Linked DNA regions of Homo sapiens. The protein of the gene in region 2 interacts with the protein of the main gene of each other region in a biochemical or structural test. Each region holds a gene or a part of one and is shown on either strand. Other genes may lie near its edges. The genes, in order: GIT1 and PPFIA3.

Region 1 (3,807 bases), on a different chromosome or scaffold from region 2:
GCCTACTGTGTGCCCGCACCACCACACCTCCATCTAGTCCAGCTGCCCAAAGACACAGATCCCATGAGTGTGCCAAGGCTCAGAGAGGTGAAGCAACTTGCTCAATGCTACACGACCACGTTGATAAGTGGCAGAGCAGGGGTGTGAGCTACTCTTCTGCATGAAGTGAGTAGATGGGAGGAAAGGGTCAGGATTAGCCTCTGCCCTAGGGGGGTGCTGCCCCTTGGAAGCTGCAGATTCCAGATGGGGGTGTATGTGGGTGAGGGGGAAACGCCCTCATGCTCAGCACACTCTGCCTGAGGGGAAGGAAGAACCACCCGACTGAGCCCTGTACCTGCAGCAGCGTGGGAGGCCAGGCGCTGTGGCGAAGGTGCTTGACAATGGAGATGTGGCGTCCCAGGCTCCGGTGCACGCTGCAGCACTCGTCACACACCAGCACACCCCTGCTGATGGATGCCCAGCCAGGGTCTGCCAGGGTGAGGGCAAGGGTCAGCCGGAGCCAGATGATGGGCCAGACCTCCTGAGCACCTGCTCTGGCCCGTGCCAAGCCTAGTACTCTCCACACATTCACTCACTCAGTCTCCAACAGCCTAGGAGCTGGGACCATCACTACGGCCAGGTTACCAGTGAGGGATCTCCCCAAGAGCTCACAGCTGGGGGCTGACAGAGCCATGCCCTTTCCTACATCCTTACCCCTCTGGGATATGCAGTCCCCAGGGCCCATTCAGCAGGCACAGTTTCCTGCCCTGCAGCCACTGCTACCAGTCTCTCAGCCTTTTCCCAGGAAACGAGGTCTCTGCCCCAGCCCGTCCCGAAGGGAGGAAGGGATCCCCAAGGGGATGCAACCCAGATGCTGCTGCATGCCAGATGCTGTTGAAACATGCCTGACAGATCACACCCGTCCACAGGTCCTGCCTCTGGCCTCCTGCCAGCAGGTGAGGTCCTTTCATGCTGGAGCCTCCTGCCATCATCACTGAGGGTGTAAGCTGGAGCCCTCTTAAGGAAGATGGACAGAGCAAAGGAGCTGGGCTTGACTGGGCACCCACTAGGTACCAGCTGGGTACATTATGTGTGATGCTGCTTGCAACTGTCAGGCAAGGTAGGACATGCTACCTCTGTGATGAAGAAACAGTGGCTCAGAGAGGTTAAAGGGCTTATTCAAGGATGCGAGGCTAATGAGTAGAATTGCCAGGATGTGGCACTTTCATGCCTGAGACCATGCCATGTCCACACTTGCTGCTGTCCCTCTGCCTCTATAGCCTGCTCTCCACTCTTTTGGGAAAAGTGAACTTGGGAGAAGAAGCAGGGCCAGGACTGGGTGGGAGTTCCGGGGTTCTTCTCAAGGGTGGAGGAGATGCCACCCATCCTAGGCCCCTTGGGAGACAGCTGCATACGACTCAGGCTGCGGAAAGGTCACGGGGGAGAAAGCAGCCATTGTGTGCCGCCTGAGAGTGGGGGCAGGGCGCCTCTCTCCCAGGACACTTTGCTCTGCCCAGCGGCCCCCACCCTGTCTCAGGAAACCCTGTCCTGGGGTGGGGGTGGGGGACTGGCTCTCTGCCTTGCCCTGTAGCGCTCAGGGTGTTCAGAAGTATCCCCATCAGGGGAGGGACAGGCTTAGGGGGATAAGAATCTCTCCCAACTAGAAGGCAATTCTCAGGCCTTTCCCCTCTAAGGACTTCCACCAAAGTTCCCAGGAAAATTGAGGAGACTCTGAGTCAGGGGCCCAGCCTGAGCTCTGCCCACAGCAAGTGACCCCCACTGAGGCATGAAAACAGGAAGTAAAGGAGAGAGGCCTGTCTTTGGGTTTAGGCTTTTTTTTTTTTTTTTTTTTTGAGACGGAGTCCCGCTCTGTCGCCCAGGCTGGAGTGCAGCGGGTTTAGGCTTTTTAAGGGACCCCCTCCCAATCAGGGCAACAGAGGGATGCCCAAGGTGACCGCCAACACCTTCCTGGGGGGCTGACTCCAGGGCTCAGGAGGAAGGGACCAGCCTTCTTCGCCAAGAGGGGGAGCCCTAGCATGCACTTCTGGGCTGGCTTTACCCAAATAGTGAGGCACCCCAGGTGTGGAGACCTCCCTCTCCCCACTCCAAACACCACTGGGTCAGGGGGCTGCCAGCCAGCCACCTCCAGCAGCCCAGGCAGGAAGCCGGAAATGATGCAGCCCAAATTCCTCTTGGTGGGGTTTCCTGTAAGTGGGGAGCCGCCCAGGGCAGGATCATAAATGGGCTGATCTGAGGTCTGTGGTCCTACCGGAGAAGCCAGGCATGGAAGGCTGACTATATATCCACGGCCAATGGCTCCAGAGCCCTAAGCCATGGGCAGACCAGATGTGGTGAGTGACCCTGGCTATGGCAGTAACCAAGACCAGGATGCAGGAGTGTGGTCCAAGGGTTTGCCTGGCACTTTCCCCCAGCCTGGGGGAGGGGTTCTCCTTCTCCTCCAGGTGACCTGAGAAGAATGGTAGGCAAAGGACACTGTCCTGGTCTGGGCAGCCGCTATTGGTGTCAGCTCATTTCTGGATGACACAGATGGGACGCCCACCCTAACCATTCTGTCTCCTCCCTCTGTGCAAGTGCCCTTGGGACTACCCAGATTGTAGTTTAAGGTGAAGGGATCCTTGCGTCAAGAAGCTCCTTGGACCAAACCTGGGACGGAAAGGACAGGAACTGTAAGGGAACTCGTCAGCCCTCCCCCTGCGCTTCTGGCTCCACCGGCAGGGTATGGGTCTGTATGTGTGGAGAGGTAGCAGGCGTGATCCTGGGATCACGTTAACCAGTGCCAACCCCATGGAGGCCTCTACTACGGTGAATTCCTGCCACCACCTGAAGCCATCAGTGGCCTCCAGGGCCAGTAGGTTTGCACATACAGGCTAGCCTCAGGCCTCCCTCCCCTGAGCTAAGGGCCAGATCTCCACTAGACTAAGGGAAAAGCCCACATCATGAAGGCAGGCGAGAGTAGTCCTTGGGGTAGAGTCAGAATGGTGGTTACCTCTGGGGTGCACGGACTGGGAGGGGGTACTTGGAAGCCCCCTAAGGTGATGGAAATGTTCTATAACATGCTTGTCTAACCTGCAGTCCATATGCGGCCCAGGCAGCTTTGAATGTGGCCCAACACAAATTCATAAACTTTCTTAAAACATTATGAGACTTTTTTGTGACTTTATTTTTTATTTTTATTTTTGCTTGTTTTATTTAGCTCACCAGCTATCATTAGTGTTAGCGTATTTTAGGTGTGGCCCAAGAAAATTCTTCTTCCAATGTGGCCCAGGGAAGCAAAAAGATTGGATACCCTTATTCTATAACATGATCAGAGCAGTAGTTACATGGGTATACACACATGTAAAAGCCCATCAGGATGAACACTCAGGTGCAGGCATTGACACACACAAATTCTACCTCCATAAGGGAGGAAGAGGAGCCCAACATTTGTCCCACTCTGCAATCTACACTATGAAGAGACAAATCAGCCTGTAGCTTGTCCCGTAACATGTCCCCGGCCTTGCTCACCAGAGATACCTACAGGACAGGCATCTTGAGGCCTTCACTCTCACCCCCAGGGTTGCCAAAGTGGAAAAGGCTGAGATAGAAGCCCATGGGGTGAGGAGAGGCCCTTGACTGAGATCGTGTGGCGAGGTGGGCCAAGCCTAAGGAAAGGGGAAGATGCACATTCTCCAGGGCTCCCTGCCCCCTTCCTCTCTTGGACTCCCCAGGCAGGCAGGAACACATACGGTGCCTGACGAGGTGGCACAAGCTGCCAGAGCAGCCATGTCATGTCCAGCTGCCTAGCAACACACTCACACTTGTCCTGTG
Region 2 (3,807 bases):
AGGGAGGCGGGAGCTAGTTCTTGGACTTCTGGGTCGTGAAGAGGGTGAAGAAGTGACAAGCATGGTCCTGGCCATACTGGTATTTTTTTTGTTTTTTTTTGTTTGTTTGTTTGTTTTGTTTTTTTTTGAGACTGGGTCTCTCTATATCGCCAAGCTGGAGTGCAGTGGCACGATCTTGGCTCACCGCAACCTCTGCCTCCCGGGTTCAAGCGATTCTCCTGCCTCAGCCTCCCGAGTAGCTGGGACTACAGGTGCGTGCCACCACGCAAGCTAATTTTTGTATTTTTAGTAGAGATGGGGTTTCACCATGTTGGCCAGGCTGGGCTCAATCTCTTGACCTCGTGATCCAACAGCCTCAGCCTCCCAAAGTGCTGGGATTACATGAGTGGGCCACCTTGCCCGGCCGTTACTGTGTTTTTTTTTTGAAATGGAATCTCACACTGTTGCCCAGGCTGGAGTTCAGTGGTGCTATCTCGGCTCACTCTAACCTCCACCTCCCGGGTTCAAGCGATTCTTGTGCCTCAGCCTCCCCAGTGGCTGGGACTACAGGTGCATGCCACCATGCCCGGCTAATTTTTTTTGTATTTTTAGTAGAGACGGGGGTCACCATGTTGCACAGCCTGGTCTTGAACTCCTGACCTCAAGTGATCTGCCCATCTCGGCCTCCCAAAGTGCTGGGATTACAGGCATGAGCCACTGCGCCCAGTCCTGGCCTTGCTTTTTTTTTTTTTTTTTTTTCTTTTCCCGAATGGAGTAGGTCTTTAGATTCTTAGGGAGCCGGGGTCCAGATTTCTGGGAAATTGAAGGAGGCAGGAGTTGGGCTGGCTAGTAGGTGAGACCAACCCTGTGACATTATACAGGTAACCACATCCTAGTGACCTAATCCTGGGTCCCTTGGCCCTGTGGCCTTCTTAAGGCATGGTTCTGGTCTGGGCCTCAGTTTTCCTACCCATGCAGTGGGTTGAGGGGGATTCTCAGTAGAGCCAGAATAGGTAGACACTGATTTTCTCCACATTCACTCATACGATACCAGGGTCGGCCAGCTTTGGTTCCTTTGAGTGGGCTAGGCTTAGGTTTGCTGCCACTGTCTGTTGGAGTCTGACCTCAGTTTTCCCAAATCCTCTCACCCAGGTAGCCAGGACTGTTTTCCTAAGAGCAATGGCACAGGCACAGTGGCATACTTTGGGATGCTGAGGCAGGAGGATCCCTTGAGTCCAGGAGTGAGACCTCATCTCCACAAAAAAAAAAAAAAAAAAAAAGGTCAGGCGCGGTGGCTCACGTCTGTAATCCCAGCACTTTGGGAGGCCGAGGCGGGCAGATCACGAGGTCAGGAGTTCGAGACCAGCCTGGCCAACATGGTGAAACCTTGTCTCTACTAAAAATACAAAAATTAGCTGGGCATGGTGGCGGGTTCCTGTAATCCCAGCTACTCGGGAGGCTGAGGGAGGAGAATTGCTTGAACCGGGACCCGGGAGGTGGAGGCTGCAGTGAGCCGAGATCGCATCACTGCACTCCAGCCTGGGTGACAGATCACTCCAGCTAAAAAAAAAAAAAAAAAAAAAAAAGAAAGTAGGGAAAGGAAAAGAAAAGAAAAGAAAAGAAAAAAATTAGCCAGGTATGCTGGTGTGTGCCTGTAGTCGCAGCTACTCAGGAGGCTGAGTTGGGAGGACTGCTCGAGTCTGGGTCGTTCAGGCTGCAGTGGGCCGTGATCGCGCCACTGAACTCCAGCCTGGGTGACAGAGTGAGACCCTGTTAAAAAAAAATAATAATAATAATAGGCCTCAGTTTCCCCTGGCAGCACCTGGTGGCCAATCTTTGGTTTCCCCGGTGGAGTGACAGGGTGGCGGTGCCTGTTTCCCTGTGTCATGATCACAGTGCCTGGGCCTCAGTTTCTTCTGTGCAGTGCTTGGTTTGCCCCCAACTATTTCCCCTACGTGGTATCCGAGTGGCTGTGCCTCAGTTTCTCTGTTGTGCCTTGACAAGGCCGGTCTGTTCCTTGCCCTCCCCGCCCCGCAGGCCCGCACCGCCGCCATGATGTGCGAGGTGATGCCCACCATCAGCGAGGATGGCCGGCGGGGCTCGGCGCTGGGCCCGGACGAGGCGGGCGGGGAGCTGGAGCGCCTCATGGTCACGATGCTCACGGAGCGCGAGCGCCTGCTGGAGACGCTGCGCGAGGCACAGGACGGGTTGGCTACAGCGCAGCTGCGGCTGCGCGAGCTCGGCCACGAGAAGGACTCGCTGCAGCGCCAGCTCAGCATCGCGCTGCCCCAGGTCTGGGCGGGACAGGGGCGGGGCATGAGGGGGCGGGGCCTCGGGGGGAAGAAGGCGGTCCGGAAGGGGCCGGGCTTGGCGCCTGGAAGGGAGGAGTCTGGGCGAGGCTTGCCGTTAATGGGCGGGGCCTGAGTGGCAAGGGACAGCGGGACTTAGCAGGGAGGGCGGGACCTTCAAACTTCCAGTCCCAGTGAATGAAGGAGACAGGGAAAGGATTGAGCCGAATGTCCAGATCCTGCCAATGTCTGGACAGGAGTTTGCAGCTCTGACGAAGGAGCTGAACTTATGTCGGGAGCAGCTGCTGGAGAGGGAGGAAGAGATTGCAGAGCTGAAGGCGGAACGGAACAACACGCGGGTGAGGGGTGTTGAGGGCGGGGCCTAAGTGGGGGCGGGGCCTCGTGGTGTTGAAGTGGGGGGCGGGGCCTCTCAGTGTTGCAGCGTGACCTATTTTTTTCCCCCATCTCGCCTTTCTGTCTTCTCCTCTTCCCTGCTCCCACTTCCTGGCTGGTCTCCCACTCTGGTGCCACTCCTTCCTCCCTGTCTCCATAACTTTTCTCTTTTCTGTACCACCGGTTCCTTGACCCCGACCTCCTCTCTTTTCCTGACCTGTCTCGGTGCTCCTTTATATGGCTCCATCTTTTCCTCCATGTGTCCGCCCTACCTGTCACCCTTTTTCTCACATCTGCCCCTTTTCCCTTGCCTCTTTTCCTTGACCCCATGCCGTGTGCTTGCAGCTGCTCCTGGAACACCTGGAGTGCCTGGTGTCCAGGCACGAGAGGTCACTGCGCATGACCGTGGTGAAGCGCCAGGCCCAGTCCCCGGGTGGGGTCTCCTCGGAGGTAGAAGTGCTCAAAGCTCTAAAGTCTCTCTTCGAGCACCACAAGGCCCTGGATGAGAAGGTATGAGAATTAGAAGAGCAGGGGTGGAGAATGGAAACCTATAGTTGACTGGGGCTGTTCTGAGTGGGAGAGATTCTGGCCGTGATTGGTTGGGGATGTTCTGAGTTGGAAGAATGTTGACTGTGATTGATTGGGACAGGATACATAGACTGGGACCTGACTGGTTGATAGCAGAAAAATAAACCAGGATGGGGGCTAACAGTGGATGGGGCAGATTGGATAGCTGGTTGCGGCTGCATACCCGTTATGGAGACAGGAGCCCCAACGCTGCCCTATCGGATCCGTCCCAGGGGTGTTCTGGACCAGGGGCAACTGTCCTAAACTGGATCTTGTCTCCAGCTGACTGTTGCCCTGCCCCGATCCCCAGGTCCGGGAGCGGCTGCGGATGGCGCTGGAGCGCGTGGCAGTGCTCGAGGAGGAGCTGGAACTGAGCAATCAGGAGGTGTGGGTGTGGCCAAGACAGGGAATTTGAATCCAAGGGGAGGGGCTAAGGGGCTGCCCACGGGGCGGAGCCGGTTGGGTGGGTTCCAGAGAGAATCTATTGGGGCAGGACTAGGGCAGACAAGCTATGGGGTTGGACTATGGAGAGAAACCAGTGGGGTTCCTAAGTGGGCACGCATTGCGCAGGGCTACGGGG

Evidence for each region.
Region 1: the proteins of PPFIA3 (region 2) and GIT1 form a complex in vitro, tested with the Homo sapiens proteins (one study listed by BioGRID).

The regions. Positions count from the first base shown.
Region 1 is NC_000017.11:29,583,149-29,586,955, forward strand, and holds part of GIT1 (ARF GTPase-activating protein GIT1), read right to left. Parts: intron 469-3,807; coding exon 335-468; intron 1-334. UniProt on the Homo sapiens protein: GTPase-activating protein for ADP ribosylation factor family members, including ARF1.
Region 2 is NC_000019.10:49,125,843-49,129,649, forward strand, and holds part of PPFIA3 (liprin-alpha-3), read left to right. Parts: intron 1-2,016; 5' UTR 2,017-2,031; coding exon 2,032-2,271; intron 2,272-2,524; coding exon 2,525-2,626; intron 2,627-3,005; coding exon 3,006-3,170; intron 3,171-3,537; coding exon 3,538-3,612; intron 3,613-3,807. UniProt on the Homo sapiens protein: May regulate the disassembly of focal adhesions. May localize receptor-like tyrosine phosphatases type 2A at specific sites on the plasma membrane, possibly regulating their interaction with the extracellular environment and their association with substrates.